Homo sapiens: one gene and its partners. The protein of the gene in region 5 purifies or fractionates together with the protein of the main gene of each other region. This does not show direct contact. Each region holds a gene or a part of one and is shown on either strand. Other genes may lie near its edges. The genes, in order: CSTPP1, EIF4G1, JOSD1, PRRC2B, EIF3F, DDX3X and EIF4B.

Evidence for each region.
Region 1: the proteins of EIF3F (region 5) and CSTPP1 purify together in Homo sapiens (affinity purification with mass spectrometry; 3 studies listed by BioGRID and IntAct, with this or other methods). This does not show direct contact.
Region 2: the proteins of EIF3F (region 5) and EIF4G1 purify together in Homo sapiens (affinity purification with mass spectrometry; 3 studies listed by BioGRID, with this or other methods). This does not show direct contact.
Region 3: the proteins of EIF3F (region 5) and JOSD1 purify together in Homo sapiens (affinity purification with mass spectrometry; 3 studies listed by BioGRID and IntAct, with this or other methods). This does not show direct contact.
Region 4: the proteins of EIF3F (region 5) and PRRC2B purify together in Homo sapiens (affinity purification with mass spectrometry; 5 studies listed by BioGRID and IntAct, with this or other methods). This does not show direct contact.
Region 6: the proteins of EIF3F (region 5) and DDX3X purify together in Homo sapiens (affinity purification with mass spectrometry; 3 studies listed by BioGRID and IntAct, with this or other methods). This does not show direct contact.
Region 7: the proteins of EIF3F (region 5) and EIF4B purify together in Homo sapiens (affinity purification with mass spectrometry; 3 studies listed by BioGRID). This does not show direct contact.

Annotation. Positions count from the first base shown.
Region 1 is NC_000011.10:46,985,261-46,988,760, reverse strand, and holds part of CSTPP1 (centriolar satellite-associated tubulin polyglutamylase complex regulator 1), read right to left. Parts: intron 1,554-3,500; coding exon 1,451-1,553; intron 1-1,450. UniProt on the Homo sapiens protein: Regulator of the tubulin polyglutamylase complex (TPGC) that controls cytoskeletal organization, nuclear shape, and cilium disassembly by balancing microtubule and actin assembly.
Region 2 is NC_000003.12:184,317,606-184,321,105, forward strand, and holds part of EIF4G1 (eukaryotic translation initiation factor 4 gamma 1), read left to right. Parts: intron 1-111; coding exon 112-211; intron 212-2,083; coding exon 2,084-2,196; intron 2,197-2,657; exon of another isoform or gene 2,658-3,024; coding exon 3,025-3,117; intron 3,118-3,321; coding exon 3,322-3,388; intron 3,389-3,500.
Region 3 is NC_000022.11:38,685,043-38,687,993, reverse strand, and holds the end of JOSD1 (josephin-1), read left to right. Parts: coding exon 1-92; 3' UTR 93-2,451; downstream 2,452-2,951.
Region 4 is NC_000009.12:131,474,086-131,477,585, forward strand, and holds part of PRRC2B (protein PRRC2B), read left to right. Parts: intron 1-368; coding exon 369-2,450; intron 2,451-3,500.
Region 5 is NC_000011.10:7,999,845-8,002,352, forward strand, and holds the end of EIF3F (eukaryotic translation initiation factor 3 subunit F), read left to right. Parts: 3' UTR 1-2,008; downstream 2,009-2,508. UniProt on the Homo sapiens protein: Component of the eukaryotic translation initiation factor 3 (eIF-3) complex, which is required for several steps in the initiation of protein synthesis.
Region 6 is NC_000023.11:41,347,468-41,350,774, forward strand, and holds the end of DDX3X (ATP-dependent RNA helicase DDX3X), read left to right. Parts: intron 1-172; coding exon 173-252; 3' UTR 253-2,807; downstream 2,808-3,307. UniProt on the Homo sapiens protein: Multifunctional ATP-dependent RNA helicase. The ATPase activity can be stimulated by various ribo-and deoxynucleic acids indicative for a relaxed substrate specificity.
Region 7 is NC_000012.12:53,016,456-53,019,955, reverse strand, and holds part of EIF4B (eukaryotic translation initiation factor 4B), read right to left. Parts: intron 3,484-3,500; coding exon 3,346-3,483; intron 1,159-3,345; coding exon 950-1,158; intron 47-949; coding exon 1-46. UniProt on the Homo sapiens protein: Required for the binding of mRNA to ribosomes. Functions in close association with EIF4-F and EIF4-A. Binds near the 5'-terminal cap of mRNA in presence of EIF-4F and ATP.

The DNA of each region.
Region 1 (3,500 bases), about 39 Mb from region 5:
CCCATCAAGCATTTTTCCTTTGTGTTACAAACAATCTAAATGTACCCTTTGAGTTATTTTAAAATGAACAATTAAGTTATCATTGACTAGAGTCACCCTGTTGTGCTATCAAATAGCAGGTCTTTTTCATTCTTTTTTTTCTTTTTTGTAACCATCAACCATCCCCACCTCTTCCCCCAGCCCCCTGCTACCCTTCCCAATCTCTGGTAACCATCCTTCTATTCTCTTTGTCCATGAGTTTAATTGTTTTGATTTTTACATCCCACAAACAAGTGAGAACATCCAATGTTTGTCTTTCTGTGCCTGGCTTATTTCACTTAACATAATGATCTTCAGTTCCATTCATGTTGTTGCAAATGACAGGATCTCATTCTTTCTTAGGGCCAAATAATACTCCATTGTGTATATGTACCACATTTTCTTTACCCATTCATCTGTTGATGGACACTTAGATTGCTTCCAAATCTTAGTACTCTAAACAGTGCTGTAACAAACATAGGAGTACTGATATTTATTCGATACACTAATTTCCTTTCTTTTGGGTATATACCCAGCAGTTGAATTGCTGGATCATATGGCAGCCCTATTCCTAGTTTTTTGAGGAACCTCCAAACTGTTCTCCACAGTGGTTATACTAATTTACATCCCCATCAACAGTGTAGAAGGGTTCCCTTTCTCCACATCCTCGCCAGCATTTGTTATTGCCTGTCTTTAGGATACAAGCCATTGTAACTGGGGTGAGATGTTATCTCATTGTAGTTTTGATTTGCATTTCTCTGATGATCAATGATGTTGAGCACCTTTGCTTATGCCTGTTTGCCATTTGTATGTCTTGTTTTGAGAAGTGTCTATGCACATCTTTTGTCCATTTTTTGATGGGATTATTGGATGTTTTCCTATAGAGATATTTGAGCTCCTTATATATTCTGGTTATTAATCCCTTGTCAGATGGGTAGTTTGCAAATACTTTCTCCCATTCTGTGGGTTGTCTCTTCACTTTGCTGATTAGAAATACACTTAAATCATTAAGTGATTGGCACAGCATCCTGTAGAAAGAAAACTGCAGAGGAACATTAGCCTAGATTCCATGAGAAAAGCCAGCCATGAAAAAAAACAGGCTAGATGAACATCAGCGAAAGGAAATCAAAGTGAATATTTTGAATAAAGGAGAAAGTTAAAAGAGAAACCTACAGAAATAGATCTAATAGATCAAACAAGCAGTTGTTAAGCTACTGTAATCAAAACTATTCATGAGACATCACTGGACAAACTAGCTGCACCAAAGGCATGCTCCAAAACATGTTTGGGCGGCCCACAACCAACCTACCAAAACTAAACATTCACTGCCACTACCTAATCAGCATTGTCCTGCTCTGTTCCTCAAGTATCCTGCCTGCTTCCAAGCGCCTCCTCTGGGTTCACTGTATTAGTACAACATTCATGTACTTACTATTCAGTGAAGAACCTGGCAATTCCATATTGGCTAATATCTTCCCTGTTTTCTAGCAGCTGGCACACTGCATCCTCCATGTAGGTGAGGACATGTCGCTGAGCTGCAATCAAATAGCAAGAGAGAAAGAGAAAATGAGAGAAAGATTTTAAAAAGAATGATCCCAATCCTAGTAGGAGGTCATGTGTAAGGCAATCCAGGTGTTGGCTCTGTCTGATGACACTTCATCAGTGGACTGGAATAGGCAAAGCAAACTTGCTGACCCTAACTGAGCTATAGTCTCAAAGGATAGATTGGGAGATGATGTGAACATGACCAATTGCCATTTGACTGGCTGTTAGTATTAGCATCAACCCTTCATTCTTCATCTCAATCACAAGGGTGGGTTGAAGAGGAGATTTAGCACCATTCAGCAGATACACCTGGAAGTTCTTTTCTTTCTACCTCCTTCTATTCTTTTCCATTTCTGCATCAGAAACTTATCCCAGGGAGTTAGTAATTCCATGCTTGAAGCATGGATGGTATGATTGTAAAGAAAACTCTGGCCAGGCACAGTGGCTCAGGCCTGTAATCCCAGCATTTTGGGAGGCTGAGGCGGGTGGATCACTTGAGGTCAGGAGTTCGAGACCAGCTTGGCAACATGGTGAAAACCTGTCTCTACCAATAATACAAAAATTAGCCAGATGCAGTGGCTACTTCCTGAGTAGCTAGTAATCCCAGCTACTCAGGAAGCTGCGGCAGGGGAATTGCTTGAACCTGGGAGGTGGAGGTTGCAGTGAGCCAAGATCATGCCATTGCACTCCAGCCTGGGCGACAGAGCCAGACTTCATTTCAGAACAGAAAAAAAAGAAAACTCAGTTAATTTAAATTAGAAAAAAAAAAAAAAAGTCACTGGAAAGGTTTAAGGACCATGAAAATTTTCGTACTGGTGTATATATAAGTTATTAACTTTGGTAAATAACAAGACCATGAAATCTATCTGGCTTGGTTTATTAGATGTCATGTTTTCTGCATTTGTTGTGACTTGGAAATGTGTGAGTTAATCATGGGCGTATAATAAAAAGTATGAGTATTAGAGTGAGACAGACCTGAGTTTGAATCATGGCTCTGTCTTGGTAGCTTAATCTTGGATAGTTACTTAGTCTACACCTGTTTTCTTCTTTATCAAGTGTGAAAAGCAATATAATTTAACTATGTTTCTCAAAATATGGTCAATCAATTTCTTGATCTGAATCCCCTGGGATGCCGTTTAAAACGCAGATTTATAGTCTGGCACTGTCCCAGATTTAGTGACCTTACATTTTTTACTACAGCCCAGTAATTTTTAACAAGTACTCCTGATGCTTCTTATGTACTCTTAAGTTTAAGAATCACTGGTTAAGAACCTGGGCTTTGGATTACAGAGAGTTGAGAGCTCCATTCTCAGCTCTGCCACTTCCTAGTTATGTGACCATAAACAAATTATTCTTCAAGCCTATTCTTCATGGTAAAATGGGGATAATAATGGTACTTACATTATAGGGTTATGAGAAATAAATAAGATAATACAGGTAAAACACCACTATGTGTTTGGTACATAGTACGTGATTGATAACATGTTTCCTTAAAAGCCTGTCTCAAAGCATTATTGGGAGTTTACTCAGTAAACAACATAGGCCAGAACTTCTTAGATGTCAGGTACTCAAATACTTCTTCCCTTTCTCTGAATTTTATCCTTAGGTATGACAGAGGTTTCCTGACAAACTTTACATAGAAGCTTCCAATTCAGTGTCCACATTTACCATAAAAAATTCAGAAAAATACTTTCATCTGGAGCAGTGAGAACAAAAAACCCCAAAGTGATGAATATCCTTCCAAAAAGCAATTCTATGAAGTTGCTGCCAAAGTAGACATTTACTTCTTTCACAGTTTCATTCCTCAGGAAAATATGATGGAATTACCTAAAATTTATAAATATTGGTATTTCAAAAAACTATTTCTGAAGTCCTGGTAGTCTAGTGAAGCTCATAAAACAAGTAAGTTTACCTGCCAACCTGAGCCCAAAAGTCTT
Region 2 (3,500 bases), on a different chromosome or scaffold from region 5:
GTCATTGCCCAGAGTTGGCTTGTCTTGTCTTGACCTATGTTCTTTTTGGAGTCTGATATGGAACTCATAGCTCCCTCAACTCCTTCTCTCCCTCTCCCCCTTCCCCACCAGGGGCGTTCCACATACGTTGTCCCGACACAGCAGTACCCTGTGCAGCCAGGAGCCCCAGGCTTCTATCCAGGTGCAAGCCCTACAGAATTTGGGACCTACGGTAAGCAGGGGAGGGAGTCAGAGGTGAGAACAAGCCCAAGGGAGCATCTAAACTCATCTGCTGATTTCTAAAGCAGAAGACCCTTCCCAGGCTTGGCTTCTGGTCTAAAAATGATAAGGTTAATAGGTGGTAGGGATTGGTGCTTAATATTTAACTGGTGTTGATTGTGGGGAGAAAATTTGATTTTATTGCCAGGAGAGTTAAGAGTCTTTCCCACATCAGGGAATGTAGGATCAGGCACCAGCCTGAGAGCCTATTAGTAGGCTTTCCCTGTGACACTTCTTCCATGGTTGGGAGCCCATGTAATGCAAATTTGGGAGGTTTTTGTAGCTATTTTTTATTTATGTTCTAGGGAAGGATTAGTCTGTTCTTTATGGCAGTGGCTTCCAAGTTTTTTGATCACCTATCAGGAAAAGTTTTGAGTATGAATCTCTCATACATGTATGTTTTTGTTTATATGTATGCAAAATTTAAACAAATACACTTGTGCTTGTCAAAAACAAGTGGAATTTAGGGATGAAATTAAAGAATGTGCCCGGATCTTGCTTGTAATCCCAGCACTTTGGGAGTCAGGAGGACTGCTTAAGGCCAGGAGTTTGAGACCAGCCTGGGAAACTTAGTGAGACCCTGTCTCTATTTTAAAATTTGAGGGGGGCTGAGCACGGTGGCTCACGCCTGTAGTCCCAGCACTTTGGGAGGCCAAGACAGGCGGATCACTTGAGGTCAGGTGTTCGAGACCAGCCTGGCCAACATAGTGAAGCTCCGTCTCTACTAAATTTTATTGTTATTATTTTAATTTTCTTTTTGAGACGGAGTCTCGCTCTGTCACCCAGGCTGGAATGTAGTCGCACAGTCTTGGCTCTCTGCAGCCTCCGCCTCTTGGGTTCAAGTGATTCTCCTGCCTCAGCCTCCCGAGTAGCTGGGATTACAGGCGTGTGCCACCACACCCAGCTAATTTTTGTGTTTTTAGTAGAGATGGTGTTTCATCATGTTGACCAGGCTGGTCTCGAACTCCTGGCCTCAAGTGATCCACCTGCCTCAGCCTCCCAAAGTGCTGAGATTATAGGCGTGAGCCACCACGCCTGGCCCTGTCTCAACTAAAAATACAAAAATTAGGCCTGGTGATGCACTCTTGTAATCCCAGCTATTCGGGAGGCTGAGGCAGGAGGATCGCTTGAACCCGGGATGTGGAGATTGCAGTGAACCAAGATTGTGCCACTGTATTCCAGCCTGGGCAATAGAGTGAGACTCCATCTCAAAAAAAAAAAAAAATTAAGGGGAAAAAAGAACTCACCCACTTTGGAGATAGTTTGCTTTAAGGAATTAATTTTTCTTCATCTTGAGCCTAGTTCATAATGTTACTTTGTTTCTTTGCCCCTTTGTAAAGGGCTGGAGACAGGAACTAGACTCAAGTTAAATGGAACAGGGTTGGCAGATCTCTTTCTCTCATTACCAGCCAAAGACCTGGTTCTGTTTCAGGTTCAGAGTATGTGTGTACATGTTGATAGCGGGTGGGGTACACACACGAGAGTAACTTGTACGGTGGAAGGACAGACATAAGTCCTCCTGGTCACTGGTGTGTGGTAGGAAAGAGTGCCTGCCTACGAGGGGTGTGTGTGTGTGTGTGTGTGTGTGTGTGTGTGTGTGTGTTTGTGTGTGTGTGTGTGTTAGGAATTCTTGTAAACGCAGTTCAGACTGGTTCCCCAGCTTTGACAGACACCTAATTCCCTGGGGGAGGAGGGCAGGGCAGGGCAAGGCAAGGGGCCGGCTGTGGGTGGTGAGAGGTTTTGGGGTGGGAGGTGTCAGGCAGGCATTAGTATATGGTTGGGCCCTGACGCTACCACCATTCTTCTCCGTCCCCCCTCCCCCAAGCTGGCGCCTACTATCCAGCCCAAGGGGTGCAGCAGTTTCCCACTGGCGTGGCCCCCACCCCAGTTTTGATGAACCAGCCACCCCAGATTGCTCCCAAGAGGGAGCGTAAGACGGTGAGTAGCAGTGAGGGGCTCCGGGACATCTGGGAAGGGGAGAATCAAGGTCAGGTGCTGCTGGGACATTGTGCCGGAAAGAGCAGTGACTTGAGGAGGAAGGAGCTGAGAGTGGGCAGAGAATGGTGTCTGTGGAGGGCTCAGGTTCTTTGTAAGATGCTAAGATTTCAGCATAGAAGCAGGTCATGGGAAGACTGAAGTGCCTAGCGAGGAAGTTCCTGCGAGACCTGGGTGCTGGGGGGTTGGAAGAACTATGCTTGGTTTTGGGTTTCTAGTGGCTTGCCTTGGAAATGGTTTGTTTTCTGTGGCCCCAGCCCCCATTCCCCCCTGCCCCCCCAGTCCTGGAAGCTCTCAAGGCCTCCGCCTCTGCTCAGTCCTCAAGCCCTGGGCGTGGTGCCCAGAATAGGGTGCCAGAGCTGGGGAAGCCGCTGAGTCACCCTGGCTCCACCTACTGGATCTGGGCCCTGCCCCCAGAGATCAGGCACACTAGCCACAAGTGAGCCGATTGGGTTCTAGATGGGGGTCCTGGGCCCCAGGGTGTGCAGCCACTGACTTGGGGACTGCTGGTGGGGTAGGGATGAGGGAGGGAGGGGCATTGTGATGTACAGGGCTGCTCTGTGAGATCAAGGGTCTCTTAAGGGTGGGAGCTGGGGCAGGGACTACGAGAGCAGCCAGATGGGCTGAAAGTGGAACTCAAGGGGTTTCTGGCACCTACCTACCTGCTTCCCGCTGGGGGGTGGGGAGTTGGCCCAGAGTCTTAAGATTGGGGCAGGGTGGAGAGGTGGGCTCTTCCTGCTTCCCACTCATCTTATAGCTTTCTTTCCCCAGATCCGAATTCGAGATCCAAACCAAGGAGGAAAGGATATCACAGAGGAGATCATGTCTGGGGCCCGCACTGCCTCCACACCCACCCCTCCCCAGGTACTGTCTGCTTTTCGAGTGATACCCTGGCTGGGATGTCTGTTCTGCCCTGGACTCCCAAGTCCCTGGATCTTTTCTTTCAACTAAGGGATTTATTTCCCTGCTTTCCTGGATTTCTAGGCAGAGCTAAAGTAGAAATGGCTCTAGTAAAGAAGGGTTGTGGGACTCTTCAGTGCAAACTTGGTAACCCTTTGTGTCCTGCAGACGGGAGGCGGTCTGGAGCCTCAAGCTAATGGGGAGACGCCCCAGGTTGCTGTCATTGTCCGGCCAGGTAAGTAAGCCGGTGGGACGGAGCTTTTATGGGGAAAGGGAATGTTAACAGTTAAATGCTGAGGTGGTGGAGTGACTTGAACTGGGTACCAGAGAATGATGACTTAGATTTC
Region 3 (2,951 bases), on a different chromosome or scaffold from region 5:
TAAAACATCATTTGCGAGGAAAGAACTGTGAACTCCTGCTGGTGGTACCAGAAGAGGTAGAGGCTCATCAGAGTTGGAGGACCGATGTGTAACAGTTCTGCCCAACCTCCCTCTCGCCTCAGCCCCTTCAGTCCTCTGTGACGTGCTGTGGCCTCTACAGTGGGTCTGCCCTTGCCACTTCCCCAAACATCTCATCAAGTTTTTCCCCTTCAGATCTGACAGTGCAATAGGACAGACGTGTGGACTGTTATAAGAACTACTCAGTGTTTTGTTCCTGGGCAAGGAAGGTAGGAGTTCTGTGCACTTAAGGCCAGTGGTCACAAACCCTTGTTTTATTTAAGAGACAGAGGAGAAAGTGGAGCGGGGAGGGAATCCTAGCTTATTTTCCCTTTTCTATGAGGACTTGACACAGGTTCTGCTGAGTTGTCACTGCTGCTCCAGACTCACCTAGAGATGCTGCCTCCACTTTCCATCCTGTCTGGGTCTGAAAACAGTGGGTCTGCAGATAGTGCCCACAAACCCCATGTGACTGGTTTGAAGGACCCAGAGCATAAAGGTCTCTCAGGAAACCATGTCCAAAACCCTAGCAGCGGTACAGCATGCTGTCTCCAACCCTTATCCCCAGGTTTAAGGGTGGTTTATGGCCATACGTGGAGGTTTTTTGTTGTTGTTTTTGAGACTGAGTTTCACTCTTGTTGCCCAGGCTGGAGTGCAATGGCACCATCTCGGCTCACTGCAACCTCCACCTCCTGGTTCAAGCGATTCTCAGGCCTCAGCTTCCCAAGTAGTTGGGATTACAGGCGCCTGCCACCACACCTGGCTAATTTTGTATTTTTAGTAGAGATGGGGTTTCTCCATGTTGGTCAGGCTGGTCTCAAACTCCCGACCTCAAGTGATCTGCCCGCCTTGGCCTCCCAAAGTGCTGGGATTACAGGCGTGAGCCACCGCACCCGGCAGAGTTTTATAATGAAAAATTAACTAATATTCTAGTATGAAGTGAGGAGGATACTGAACAGGATGTGGCTAAAGCCAACCTGGGACAGCCATGGGGTGGCTTGGTTTCTTCACTCCAGTGTTGTCCCTACCATTTCGCAGCATTGATTTAGGAGGCTCTGGGACAAAAGAGAAGCCAAAGAGCAGTTTTCCCAGTTCACTCACTCTGGCAAAATCAGGAAAAAAAAGTCTGCTTTTGACATCAAATTCCACTAATTTGGGGCAGCGTTGGGTGAGGAAAGTATTGTGAAGACAGGCTTCTTGGAGTAGGGGCAGCCACAATTCAGTAGACACTCTAGGCTCGGAGGCTGCCACTGTAGTTGCCAAGCTCAGGTTGGGTGGTTCTGTGCTGTATGGATGGAATAGGACCTGGGCTGGTCATCTTCATGTCGTTTCCTCTCTGTATCAATGGAAGTTCAACCCGCCCCTACCTCTTCAGATAGTTGTAGGCCACTTTTCTCTTGTAACTTTGGAAAACAAAAGAGGAGAAATAAGTATCATACCATATGCGTGTCTCCAAAGTGGATGTGGTTGCCTCAAGGCAGGTGGCAGGCAGGGGTGACCTGCTGGCCCTCAGATCAATGGTCGTGGCAGGTCTGAGAGCTGTCCCACTGGCCAGACTTCTCTCCAGCAGCAAAGCCAGCCTGGGGCTTGCATGTTGATCCTGAGCAAGCTTAACGGGGTGAAGCTGGGCTTTCTCCCCCCTGTGACTGGAGTGCATGTTGACACCAGCACTTTTTCTGCACATGTATCTTCAATCCAACAAGGCCGTTTTTTTAATGCTGAGTAACAGGCCACCAAGCGGCTACTGCGTTATATCTTCTCAGCAACTGGCCGCAGTCTCTTCTGCACCATTTTCTACACCAGACCTGCTTGGCACCACAGGGAGCTCTTTTCCTGCCCTGCACAATGACATTCCAACCACCACCAGCCAGACATTACAGCCAACCTTGCTGATTGTCACAAGCAGGACCTTGGGGCCACTGGCACTGTCAGATAGTAAGCCATTTCTTGGGTAGAGGAGGAAACTCCTCTCCACAAATCCACTTGGGCCTGTGCAAATGGCACTTGAAAGAGTCCCCATGCACTTGGAGTCCATGAGCCAATGGGATATGCAAAGACGCTTAAACATTTCAGGGCTGGTTTCTCTGTTCATATCCAATTCTGGTGCTTAGGAACAGGGACCCATGCTGATGCCCAAGGGCAAAAAGCCCCACTTCCTTTAAGGAAGTGAACAGGCCTGACCCTGATGCCCAATAACGGGCAACCCTAGGCTTTTTGTTTTTCTTGCTTTTATTCCTTTTTGTTGTTGGCCTTGTGCTGCGTTTGTTTACAAAAGATGTATTTTGTTTAACCAAATATTAAAAATGGAAAACTCCATATATGTCTCCTTGTCTGCCTGAATTCTATAATTGTGTAAAGAAAAATAAACTTTAGTATGACGCTGTTTTAAAAGGAGTTCATTGCCAGCGTAAGTCATCTTTTAGAGACATATCATTCTTTGATTAACTCTTTCACCTGAGAAATCCAGACAAAATAGTCACTGAAATGGGATTTGGTTCAAAAGATGTCTCTAAGACATTTTTCAGTCTATTTTAATTTATAAAAACTAATCTTGACAATTTGAAGAATCCACCTAAGTACAAGTTTGTACCACACTGGTGACTAGTGTTTTTCCCTAGTTAACAAGTGAAAGATCATGTATACCCAGCGGGCCTGGGCCCAGCCCCACCATCCCGAGCGCACAGCAGCAGTGTTCTGTAGCTGGACTGCCTGGATTTGAATCCAGGTCTAGCACTTAACTCTGCAGCCTTGAGCAATTACCTTTCTGTGGCTGTTTCCTCTTCTGTAAAATGGGAACAGTACCACCTAGATTGTAGTGTTGGTTGATCTGATAAACACACAAAAGGCTTACTCTGGCTGGGCGTGGTGGGTGACGCCTATAATCCCAGCACTTT
Region 4 (3,500 bases), on a different chromosome or scaffold from region 5:
TCTTCACGGCCTCCCAGGCTCCAGCTTGCTCTTGCTCTTTGACCCGGAGGATTGCCTGGCTCCTCTGTCTCCAGGGGGCACACCGTACCCAGCCTGCGGCCACGACAGTCTTCACTCTCAAGGACTCCAGGGGCCACCGACCAATTCATGGCCTGGCATTTCTGAGACGTGTTTAAAGATAGAACAAATGTTGATGCTTATGTTTTTTTTTGGTTGTTGTTTTTTGTTTTGTTTTTCTAGCTTTCTTTTTAAAAAGTGTTTTAGTTTTTGTTTTTGTTTTTTCTTTTTAAAACTAAGCTCTGTGTTCAGCATGGAAACCAGGAACCAGGCTCCAATCGCATTGACTGATTTTTCTGGTTCCTTTTCAGGAATGAAAGCTCTTTCTCTGCCTCACTCGGAAGGGCAGGGGGCGTAAGTGCTCAGCGCGATCTCTTTGAGGAGAGAGGGGAGGAGTACTTGAGTGCTTTTGACAAGAAGGCCCAAGCAGACTTTGACAGCTGTATCTCTTCTCAAAGAATAGGCCAGGAGCTTTTGTTTCCACCCCAAGAAAATGTTCAGGATGCAGGTGCTCCTGGGGGTCACACCCAAAACCTCAGGTGTTCCCCATTGGAGCCTGACTTTGTCCCAGATGAGAAAAAGCCAGAGTGTGGCAGTTGGGATGTTAGCCACCAGCCAGAGACCGCTGACACAGCCCATGGTGTTGAGCGGGAGACACCCCGGGAGGGGACGGCCTTTAACATCTCCTCCTGGGACAAGAACGGGAGCCCCAACAAACAGCCATCCTCGGAGCCTGAATGGACTCCCGAGCCCCGGAGCTCCAGCAGCCAGCACCCGGAGCAGACGGGCAGGACCCGGAGGTCGGGACCCATCAAGAAACCAGTCCTGAAAGCCCTCAAGGTGGAAGACAAGGAGAAGGAGCTTGAGAAGATTAAGCAGGAGCTAGGGGAGGAGAGTACCCGGCTGGCCAAGGAGAAGGAGCAGAGCCCCACGGCAGAAAAGGATGAGGACGAAGAGAACGATGCCTCTCTGGCCAACTCCTCCACCACCACTTTGGAGGACAAAGGCCCTGGCCATGCCACTTTTGGCCGCGAGGCCACCAAATTTGAAGAGGAGGAGAAACCTGACAAGGCCTGGGAAGCCAGACCCCCACGAGAGTCCAGCGATGTTCCCCCCATGAAGAGAAATAACTGGATCTTTATTGATGAGGAGCAAGCCTTTGGGGTCAGAGGACAGGCCCGGGGCCGGGGCCGTGGTTTCAGAGAGTTCACTTTTCGTGGTCGGCCTGCTGGCGGAAATGGGAGCGGCCTCTGTGGTGGGGGGGTCCTGGGGGCCCGCAGCATCTACTGCAGCAGTCAGCGCAGCGGCCGTGGCCGGGGCCTGCGAGAGTTTGCGCGGCCAGAGGACTGCCCCAGAGCCAAGCCCCGACGGAGAGTTGCCAGTGAGACCCATAGCGAGGGCTCAGAGTATGAAGAACTTCCCAAGCGCCGCCGGCAGAGGGGCTCCGAGAACGGGAATGAAGGCTCGCTCCTGGAGAGGGAGGAGAGCACCTTGAAGAAGGGCGACTGCAGAGATTCTTGGCGGTCCAACAAGGGGTGCTCTGAGGACCACAGCGGTCTAGATGCCAAGAGCCGAGGCCCTCGGGCCTTTGGGCGAGCCCTCCCTCCCCGGCTGAGCAATTGCGGGTATGGACGGAGAACCTTCGTCTCCAAAGAGTCACCCCACTGGCAGAGCAAAAGTCCAGGCAGCTCTTGGCAGGAATATGGCCCTTCCGACACATGCGGATCCCGGCGACCTACAGACAGAGACTATGTCCCAGATTCCTACAGACACCCTGACGCATTTGGTGGCCGGGGCTTTGAGGACAGCCGCGCGGAGGACAAGAGATCCTTCTTCCAAGATGAACACGTGGCAGATTCTGAAAATGCAGAGAACCGGCCCTTCAGGAGAAGGCGCCCCCCACGCCAAGATAAGCCCCCTCGATTCCGGCGCCTCCGGCAAGAGCGGGAGTCCCTGGGCCTGTGGGGACCCGAGGAGGAGCCCCACCTGCTGGCAGGTCAGTGGCCAGGCAGGCCCAAACTGTGTTCTGGGGACAAGAGTGGCACTGTGGGCCGCAGGTCCCCTGAGCTCTCCTACCAGAACTCCTCCGATCACGCCAATGAGGAGTGGGAGACGGCCTCCGAAAGCAGCGACTTCAGCGAGCGGCGGGAGCGGCGGGAAGGCCCTGGGTCCGAGCCCGACTCCCAGGTGGATGGTGGCCTGTCGGGGGCTAGTTTGGGTGAGAAGAAGGAGCTGGCCAAGAGGAGCTTCTCCAGTCAGAGACCCGTGGTTGACAGACAGAGCCGAAAGCTGGAGCCGGGAGGGTTTGGGGAGAAGCCCGTTAGGCCAGGTGGTGGTGACACCTCCCCTCGCTATGAGAGCCAACAGAATGGGACGCCTTTGAAAGTGAAAAGGTAAAACCAGACACCATCTGGGCCCTTTTTGTTGTTGTGTTCTGTTCTCAGCAGCACTGAGTTCACGCATGCATGCCGATGCCGCCGTGTGTCGGGGCTGGGGGCCTGCCCCCAGGCCGTCTGTGCGCGTCTCCATTGCCTGCCCCCACATTGCCTGTCTGCTTCTCGTGGTGGTGTTATTGTGGCTAGAGCTCCCACCCCCACCCCCACCCCAGTGGTGCTCTTGAGGCCACTGTCCAGCACCTGACCTGAGAGTCCAGTCATGTGTCCCTGGAGCCCCGCCGAGGGGCCGCTGCAGCGAGGAACGTTGCCTGTGCACAGTGCCAGGTGCCGGTCAGTCCACCAGAGTCCTCTGCTCCGGAGTTGCTGCCAGGCGGCGTCCTAGGGGGCATCGCTGGCCTCGTGGCTGCATGGAAGTGGCTCTTCCTAGATGGTTCTGCTTCTCCACTGTGAGGAGACGTGGCCCCACGGTGGGGTTGCCACCTCAGCATGGCAGGAGCCCAGCAAACGCAGAGGGGAGCAGGCTGCACATGGTCTGGCGAGCACCTCTTCCACAGCCAGAGGCATTCGGGTGATGACCTCTGCTCAGGGACCAGGAGAGGGTCCCCTGCACAGTCTGGGTTGACTGACTGCACTTGGCTTGTGCCTCGGACAGGGAGGTGCAGGGGCTGCTGAGGCCTTCCCTGTCCTCAGCATACTGAGGAAGATGGCTTCACACCTCCACTCTCCTTAGAATTCAAGGCAGAGAAACTCCCAGAGAAGGAGCCACAGGGAACACCGACTCTTTCAGGTGGCATCTAATCCAGCTTTCCAGGCGCCAGAGGCTGACCCTTGGCTTCACCTCAGTTTTCTGCCCCAAGGGCCCTCCGGCAGGGCAGTCCTGGAGAGGAGCAGAAATGCTGGCGTCTCCATTCTGAGCATATTCCCCTTGTCTCTCTCCCCCCTACACTCTGAACATAGCATGTGGGAGAGCCCTGGGGAGCCACTTTCCCCAGGAGCAGGCAGAGCCGGTGGGGGCAGCCTTACACGTATGTTTGCACACGGACATGG
Region 5 (2,508 bases):
TACTTCCACGTTCACTGAAGCATTGTTCACAATCGCCAAGACATCAACCTAAGTGTCCATCAACAGAAGATAGATAGGGCTGAGCGCGGTGGCCCACGCCTGTAATCCCAGCACTTTGGGAGGCCAAGGCAGGTGGATCATTTGAGGTCAGAAGTTCTTGACCAGCCTGGCCAACATGATGAAACCCCGTCTCTACAAAAGATACAAAAATTAGCCAGGCATCTTGGAGGGCGCCTGTAATCCCACCTACTCGGGCTGAAGTGAGAATGGCTTGAACCCAGGAAGTGGAGATTTCAGTGAGCTGAGATTCCGCCACTGCAGTCCAGCCTGAGCGACAAGAGTGAGAAGAGTGAGACTTCATCTCAAAAAAAAAAAAGGTACATCTACACAATGGAATATTATTAACCTTAAAAGAAGGAAATAACTGATTTACAACAACATGGATGGACCTGGAGGACACTATGCTAGTGAAATAAGCCATGATCTCACTTGGATATGGAATCACAAAATTGAACTCACAAGCAGAGTGTAGAAAGGTGGTTTCATGGACTGGAGGGAGGGGATAAATGGGGAGATGTTGGTCAAGGGTACAAAGTTTCAGTTAAACAGGAGTAGTACGTTCCGGAGACCTGTTGTGCAGCAGGGTGACTAGTTAATGTATACTTGAAAATTGCTAGGAGTAGATCTCACCAGGAGAAATGAATATGTGAGGTGATGGATGTAACTAGCTTGATTGTGGTAATCAATTTCGCAATGTGTACATATATCAAAACATCACATTGTACAAAATACATACAGTTTTTGTCAATTTAAAGATATCAGAATTCTAGAATATGATAAAGTTGTGTTTTCAAGCAAGTAAAGATAGATTACTTAAGAGCGAATGAGTGGTAATTTGGAAACAATGTTGGATTCCTACTTCGTTACCTGCACCAAAATAAGTTGCTCATGGAATAAAAACTTGTCTGAAAAAAAAACCATAAATATGAGGGAAAAAACACAGCAATGTGTTTTTAATGATTTATGAGTGAGGAAGAACTTTCTAAGAACTGAGAATCCAGGAGTTATTTTAAAAGACTGACAAATTTAGCAACATTTTTAAAATCTGAGTGTCAAATTACACACATACACAAATAGTCAATACAAATATAAAACTGGGAAAATATTTGCAGTTCATATCAAAAAAAGGGCTAATATTCTTGTCCCAGAATTCCTACAGTTTTTTAAGGCCAGTAATTTGATACATTAGTGTGTAAAGGATATGACCAGACAGCTCACACACAGACACACAAATGTGAAAAGATGCTTGATCTCACTGATAAAGCATAAATTAAAACGATGTCATTTTTAAAAATCAGATTCGCAAATTTTAAAAGTTGCTAACACTGGAATGGCCAGAGTAAGAGGAAACGTGACACAGGCACAGATTGCTGGTAGACATATAAGTTGGTACAGCCCTCTCTATGTAATTTTGTGTTTGTCAAAATTACAAATATGCATGCCCTTAACCCAGGAATTCCACTCCTCATTATATATCCTACAAATAAACTGGTCTCGTTATGACACAATGTAATGAATACATAGATAAGTACTGAAATACTTGGTTATCATAGCGTAAAGATGGTAATCAACCCAAATGACTATTACCAGAATAGAAATTAAACAAAGTATGATATATCCATAAAACACAATACTATGCAGCTGTTAAGCAGAATGAGACAGTCCTCTATATATCAATATGGATAAAGAGTAAGTGAAAAAAGCCAGGAGAGAATGTTGTCTATAATATGCTGTTGTTGTGTACGGGAAAATAAATAATATAAATACCTAGAATATTTGTGAAGGTACAGCCAAGAAACTACTATCACTGATTGTCTTAAGGTACTAGATGGGGCACAGGACAGGACGAAAGATTTACTTCTTATTGTTTCTTCTGTATAACTTTTGAATTTTATGCTGTTAATGTAATTTTTCAAAAAAATATATAAAAATATAAAAACATGAAAAACATGAAACAATACCTTATATTTTTACATATACTATAAAAAGTAGGAAATATTGGGAGGCCGAGGTGGGCAGATCACCTGAGGTCAGGAGTTTGAGACCAGCCTGACCAACATGGAGAAACCCCATCTCTACTAAAAATACAAAAATTAGCCAGGTGTGGTGGCGCATGCCTGTACTCTCAGCTACTTGGGAGGCTGAGGCAGGAGAATCGTTTGAACCCAGGAGGTGGAGGTTGCGGTGAGCCAAGATCACGCCACTGCACTCCAGCCTGGGCAACAAGGGCAAAACTCCGTCTCAAAAAAAAAGTAGGAAACATGCGAAAAATGATAAAATCAAATTTAAGATACTACTTCTGGAGAGTAAAAGAGGAAGAGAGGGAACAGTATTGGCAAGGGATGCAGACGTGGTTTCAATTATATCTGTAATGGCTTTCCTTTAAAAAATAAGATATGGCCAGGAGCAGTGGTGCACACCTGTAGTCCCAGAGACTGGGGAGGCTGA
Region 6 (3,307 bases), on a different chromosome or scaffold from region 5:
ACTTCATAGCTTTGGGAAGGGTTTTTTTCCTTTTAGTCATCTTTTTCAAAGCCTAATTAAACAATTTAAGTTCAGCACTATAGAAACTTGATGGCAAATTACGTAAGGGAAGGATTGTATTTAATGATGGATAACTTCATTAATTTCTCTCTCTTTTTAAATCTCTCATTAGGTGGCTATGGAGGCTTTTACAACAGTGATGGATATGGAGGAAATTATAACTCCCAGGGGGTTGACTGGTGGGGTAACTGAGCCTGCTTTGCAGTAGGTCACCCTGCCAAACAAGCTAATATGGAAACCACATGTAACTTAGCCAGACTATACCTTGTGTAGCTTCAAGAACTCGCAGTACATTACCAGCTGTGATTCTCCACTGAAATTTTTTTTTTAAGGGAGCTCAAGGTCACAAGAAGAAATGAAAGGAACAATCAGCAGCCCTGTTCAGAAGGTGGTTTGAAGACTTCATTGCTGTAGTTTGGATTAACTCCCCTCCCGCCTACCCCCATCCCAAACTGCATTTATAATTTTGTGACTGAGGATCATTTGTTTGTTAATGTACTGTGCCTTTAACTTTAGACAACTTTTTATTTTGATGTCCTGTTGGCTCAGTAATGCTCAAGATATCAATTGTTTTGACAAAATAAATTTACTGAACTTGGGCTAAAATCAAACCTTGGCACACAGGTGTGATACAACTTAACAGGAATCATCGATTCATCCATAAATAATATAAGGAAAAACTTATGCGGTAGCCTGCATTAGGGCTTTTTGATACTTGCAGATTGGGGGAAAACAACAAATGTCTTGAAGCATATTAATGGAATTAGTTTCTAATGTGGCAAACTGTATTAAGTTAAAGTTCTGATTTGCTCACTCTATCCTGGATAGGTATTTAGAACCTGATAGTCTTTAAGCCATTCCAGTCATGATGAGGTGATGTATGAATACATGCATACATTCAAAGCACTGTTTTCAAAGTTAATGCAAGTAAATACAGCAATTCCTCTTTCAACGTTTAGGCAGATCATTAATTATGAGCTAGCCAAATGTGGGCATACTATTACAGGGAAAGTTTAAAGGTCTGATAACTTGAAATAGGTTTTTAGGAGAATTCATCTACTTAGACTTTTTAAATGCCTGCCATAAATGAAATTGAAATGGTAGAATGGCTGACCACAGCAATGACCAGCCCTCATTAGGGCCCTGGATGATTTTTGGTCTAATAACGCATGCTAGTGTTGATGTTTTTTGGTCAAGAGGGTATGAACAGGAAGAATTAAATGCAGCAGGCTTTATTTTAAATGCCGATTCACATTACTCTGTTCAAGCTGCGTTGAGATGTTAAACTGGCTTACTATAGACTTCGTAAAAATGGCTCCAGAAGAGTAACAAACTGAAATCTTTGAGATCACACAGGTTGGAAATATGTACATAACTGCACAAGGTGTCAATTCTGCTCTACAGTGCAGTTTTAGTCAGTTTTAGTTGCATAGGTTTCCATTGTATTTATAGTCTGTTTATGCTAAATCTGGCCAAAGATGAGCATTGTCCACCACTAAAATGCCTCTGCCACTTTGAATTCTGTGCTAATTTTGTGGCCAGAATGCGGTGATCAAAACGCTCCATCTTTTTACAGTGGCATAGGAAGACGGCAAAAATTTCCTAAAGTGCAATAGATTTTCAAGTGTATTGTGCCTTGTTCTAAAACTTTTATTAAGTAGGTGCACTTGACAGTATTGAGGTCATTTGTTATGGTGCTATTTCAATTAGTCTAGGTTTAGGCCCTTGTACATTTTGCCCATAACTTTTTACAAAGTACTTCTTTTATTGCACATTCAGAGAATTTTATATATATGTCTTGTGTGCGTGTCCTTAAACTTCCAATCTTACTTTGTCTCTTGGAGATTGTTGAACGCAGCTTGTCTAGGAAGGGGATGGGACTAGATTCTAAAATTTATTTGGGACCATGGGAATGATAGTTGGGAAGAAAACTATTTGCACACGACAGATTTCTAGATACTTTTTGCTGCTAGTTTTATGTAATATTTATTGAACATTTTGACAAATATTTATTTTTGTAAGCCTAAAAGTGATTCTTTGAAAGTTTAAAGAAACTTGACCAAAAGACAGTACAAAAACACTGGCACTTGAATGTTGAATGTCACCGTATGCGTGAAATTATATATTTCGGGGTAGTGTGAGCTTTTAATGTTTAAGTCATATTAAACTCTTAAGTCAAATTAAGCAGACCCGGCGTTGGCAGTGTAGCCATAACTTTCTGATGTTAGTAAAAACAAAATTGGCGACTTGAAATTAAATCATGCCAAGGTTTTGATACACTTGTCTTAAGATATTAATGAAACACTTCAAAACACTGATGTGAAGTGTCCAGATTCTCAGATGTTTGTTGTGTGGATTTTGTTTAGTTGTGTGTTTTTTTTTTTTTTTCAGTGAATGTCTGGCACATTGCAATCCTCAAACATGTGGTTATCTTTGTTGTATTGGCATAATCAGTGACTTGTACATTCAGCAATAGCATTTGAGCAAGTTTTATCAGCAAGCAATATTTTCAGTTAATAAGGTTTCAAAAATCATGTAAGGATTTAAACTTGCTGAATGTAAAGATTGAACCTCAAGTCACTGTAGCTTTAGTAATTGCTTATTGTATTAGTTTAGATGCTAGCACTGCATGTGCTGTGCATATTCTGATTTTATTAAAATAAAAAGTTGAACTGCACAGTCTCCTTTGTTGTTGTCAATTGTGGTTTATTTTCAGAGGTGTAAATAAAGTGCTCTTGCCTGAAAAATTGTAAAATGTTATTTTTTGCTTGTCATCCAGTGCTATTTTTTGAGATGCCTCTTGGATACAGAATGACTCATACCATAAGTATTTGCAATGAAAGATGAAGATAGTATTAGTTTGAAATACAGTGAAACAGGATTTTTGTAATAGACGGAAATCTAAAAGGCCCTTACTGATAATACAGCATGTATTAGAAATTGGCTTATACTTTGAACAATTTGACATGGGTGGGAGTCTCTTTGTTCTTTGAAGTATCTATTATGAAGGATGGTTGAACAGTGGAAGAATGAGCAGGATAAAAGTCAAGTGTGTCAGTAGTCCAACAAGTGATGGTAAGTATATACTTAGGGAAGGAATCAAGACTATTTGGGCCAGGTGTGATGATTACATAGTCCTATAGTGCTAGTTTACTTGGAAGCTGAGGGGCAGGAAGATTGCTTGAGCCCACGAGTTCAAGTCCAGCCTGGGCAACGTATAGCAAGACCTTATCTCTGAAAACAGGTA
Region 7 (3,500 bases), on a different chromosome or scaffold from region 5:
ACCTCTCTGGATTGCTGGGTTCACGTGGTAAACGCACTGCACTGATCTGAAGGAATAAGAATCAACAACAAAGTTTCCCAGCATTCTTCTTCATTTGTCATTTTTTGAGAGGACTACAAAAGCATTACTGTATGTGCATGAATTTTTCTGAATACACAAGAACATGGTTGTCTCAGGAGGAAAACTGATGCAGAGGGATAGTAGAAACTTTACTAAATGCCCTATTATACCTTCTGAATTTTGAACTGTATGAATTTAACTCTAAAAAAAAAAAAAAAAAGATTAATTCAGGCCAGGTGCAGTGGCTCATGCCTGTAGTCCCAGCACTTTGGGAGGCCGAAGCAGGTGGATCCTCTGAGGTCAGGAGTTCAAGACCAGCCTGACCAACATAGTGCAACCCTATCTCTACTAAATACAAAAAATTAGCTGGGCATGTAATCCACTGTACTCCAGCCTGGATGACAGAATGAGACTCTGTCTCAAAAAAAAAAAAAAAAAAAAAAAAGAAAAAAAAAAAATATATATATATATAATTTTGATTTTATTTTTTTTCTTTGAGATGGTGTTTCACTCTTGTTGCCCAGGCTGGAGTGCAATGGCGCAATCTCGGCTCACCACAACCTCCGTCTTCCAGGTTCAAGCAATTCTCCTACCTCAGCCTCCCAAGTAGCTGGGATTACAGACGTGTACCACCACGCCCAGCTAATTTTTGTATTCTTAGTAGAGACAGGGTCTCACCACGTTAGCCAGGCTGGACTCGAATTCCTGACCTCAAATGATCCACCCGCCTCAGACTCCCAGAGTGCTGGGATTACAGGCGTGAGCCACCATTCCCGGCCTTAAATTATATTTCTAGTTGTTTTTTCAACAGCAACTGCCCATTCCACAATTAGTCTTTTTTAGACATTATCCTCAATATCTAGTTAATTATTACAACTTTTACACTTACATTTAATCCTCGAAAGAATTCCTTAATTGACTCTTCTGTAACATCATAGGGTAGGTTTCCTAGAAAAGCAGTGTAGGGTGGCGATTTGGGAAGACGGCTCCGGTCGATATTGGGTTCCCGAGCAGCCCGTGGAGCAGTGGGAAGGATGGAACGGTCAATTGGAGGCGCCCTATACACATCGTCATCGTTACTGTGCCAAGTGGTCGAAACTAGGATAGAGGAATGAATGTAAGAAATTAGAAGAAACTTCTCTCACTACTGTCATAGAACAAGAGGACCCATGTTAATTGCCAAATATTAAACATGCTATACAAGAAAACCAGACCAAAAAAAGTGGGGGTTCAGTAATAAGGGCACTTTACGAAGAGAAGCTTCTGAGATTAATTATGACACCTTAATCTTTATGTAAGCAAAGAAATATTATTCCATAAATACAACTCTTTATGGAATATTACTGTGTGCCAGCTACTTTATATTCATTATATCCCATCTTATCTTTTTAACAGTCCTGTGAGGTTGTCCCCCATTCTACAGAAAAGCAAACTCAGATTTCAGACAGTAATTTGCCCAAGGTCACAGACGGTAAAGCTAGGATTCAAACCTGGGTCCCTCTTACTCCAGGTATATTTAACCACTACTGACAACTCTTGTATTCCTAGTGGTGAGTTTGAAGTTGAGTATTTTTCTGCATGGTCTATCCTCCCTTAAAAACAACAACAGGCCTGGCTCGGTGGCTCACACCTATAATCCCAACACTTCGGGAGGCCAAGGTGGGTGATCACCTGAGGTCAGGTTTGAGACCAGCCTGACCATTATGGTGAAACCCTGTCTCTACTAAAAATACAAAAATTAGCCAGGTGTGGTGGCATGTGCCAGTAATCCCATCTACTTGGGAGGCTGAGACAGGACAATCTATTGAACCGGGAGGCGGCAGTTGCAGTGGGCCAAGATATTGTGCCACTGCACTACAACCTGGGCGACAGAGTGAGACTCCATCTGAAAACAAACAAACAAAAATATCACAACAAAAATCTTTTCCTACAGCACTGTCCATGAATTTGTACTTCAGATACCAACACCTATGGGAAGTACGACCTATATAAAATTTCCTGTTTTGGCCGGGTGCAGTGGCTCATGCCTGTAATCCCAGCACTTTGGGAGGCTGAGGCAGGTGGGTCATGAGGTCAGGAGTTCAAGACCAGCCTGGCCAAAATGGTAAAACCCTGATTCTACTAAAAATACAAAATTTGCTGGGCGCGGTGGCGGGCACCTGTAATCCCAACTACTCAGGCGGCTGAGGCAGGAGAATCGCTTGAACCCCGGGAGCAGATGTTGCAGTGAGCAGAGAGTGCGCCACTTGCACCCCAGCCTGGGCAATAGAGACTCTGTCTCAAAAAAAATTTCCTGTTTTTAGGAATTATGAAAACAGGTCATAGGAAAAAATATTCTTTCAGCATGCAATAAACGATTTTCAGGAAAAAAACAATGGTAATGAGATTTATGTCATACCCGGTCATTATAAAACATAGCTCCTTATTATTCCTGGCGACTCCCTGAAGGCACAGAACTTGTCCAATTGACTCTTCTTTATTTTCCCACCATAATTACTGTTCTCACTCCTTTTCCTCAGACCATTTTCGTTTACCCAAGGACACTCTGATTTTATACTAATGACACCTGGAACTAATTATTCCTTGGCTCTGAGTAAACATAGCTTACAGATTACACTGAAACATCACTTTTTTTTTTTTTTTGAGATGGAGTCTCGCTCTGTCTCCCACGCTGGAGTGCAGTGGCATGATCTCAGCTCACTGCACCCTCCGCCTCCCAGGTTCAAGCAATTCTCCTGCCCCAGCCTCCCGAGTAGCTGAAATTACAGGCACATGCCACCACGCCCAGCTAATTTTTGTATTTTTAGTAGAGATGGGTTTTCACCATGTTGGCCAGGCTGGTCTTGAACTTCTCATCTCATGTGATCTGCCCACCTCGGCCTCCCAAAGTGCTGGGATTACAGGTGTAAGCCATCGCGAGCAGCCTGAAACATCACTTTATGAGGACCCCATAGAATTTTAGACCTAAAAGGAATTTTAAAAGATGATCTAGTTCTTACTTTTAAAATGAAGAAAATGAGGCCCAAAAGAATAGTAACTTAAGAAGTCTGTTAATGCAAGAACAAGAACTAGCAAAGCTCTCTTAAATGACCACTTCAGTCTTCACTGCAAAGTCTGACAGCCCAAACCTCAGATTAAACCTTAGATTCTATAAAATATGTAAGATTTCAGGTGCTAAAAAATGAGTAAGTTCTTTTCAGATTACAAACGATGTGAATTATTATGTAATAGGTTTTGTCTAGAAAATAATAAACATTCCAAACACGATGACAAAAGAAAAGTTACCATCTCCTTCCAGGTCATCCGTTTCATCAGCCCAGCTGACTGGTTTGGAAACATAGGTGCTTCCTCCACCAGTACCCCCATCCTCAGCCAGAAAGTCTGTTAGGGAGATAGTCTTCCCCTTCTTATTCTTCTTTTTTGCTGTTTTAAAAGGCAAG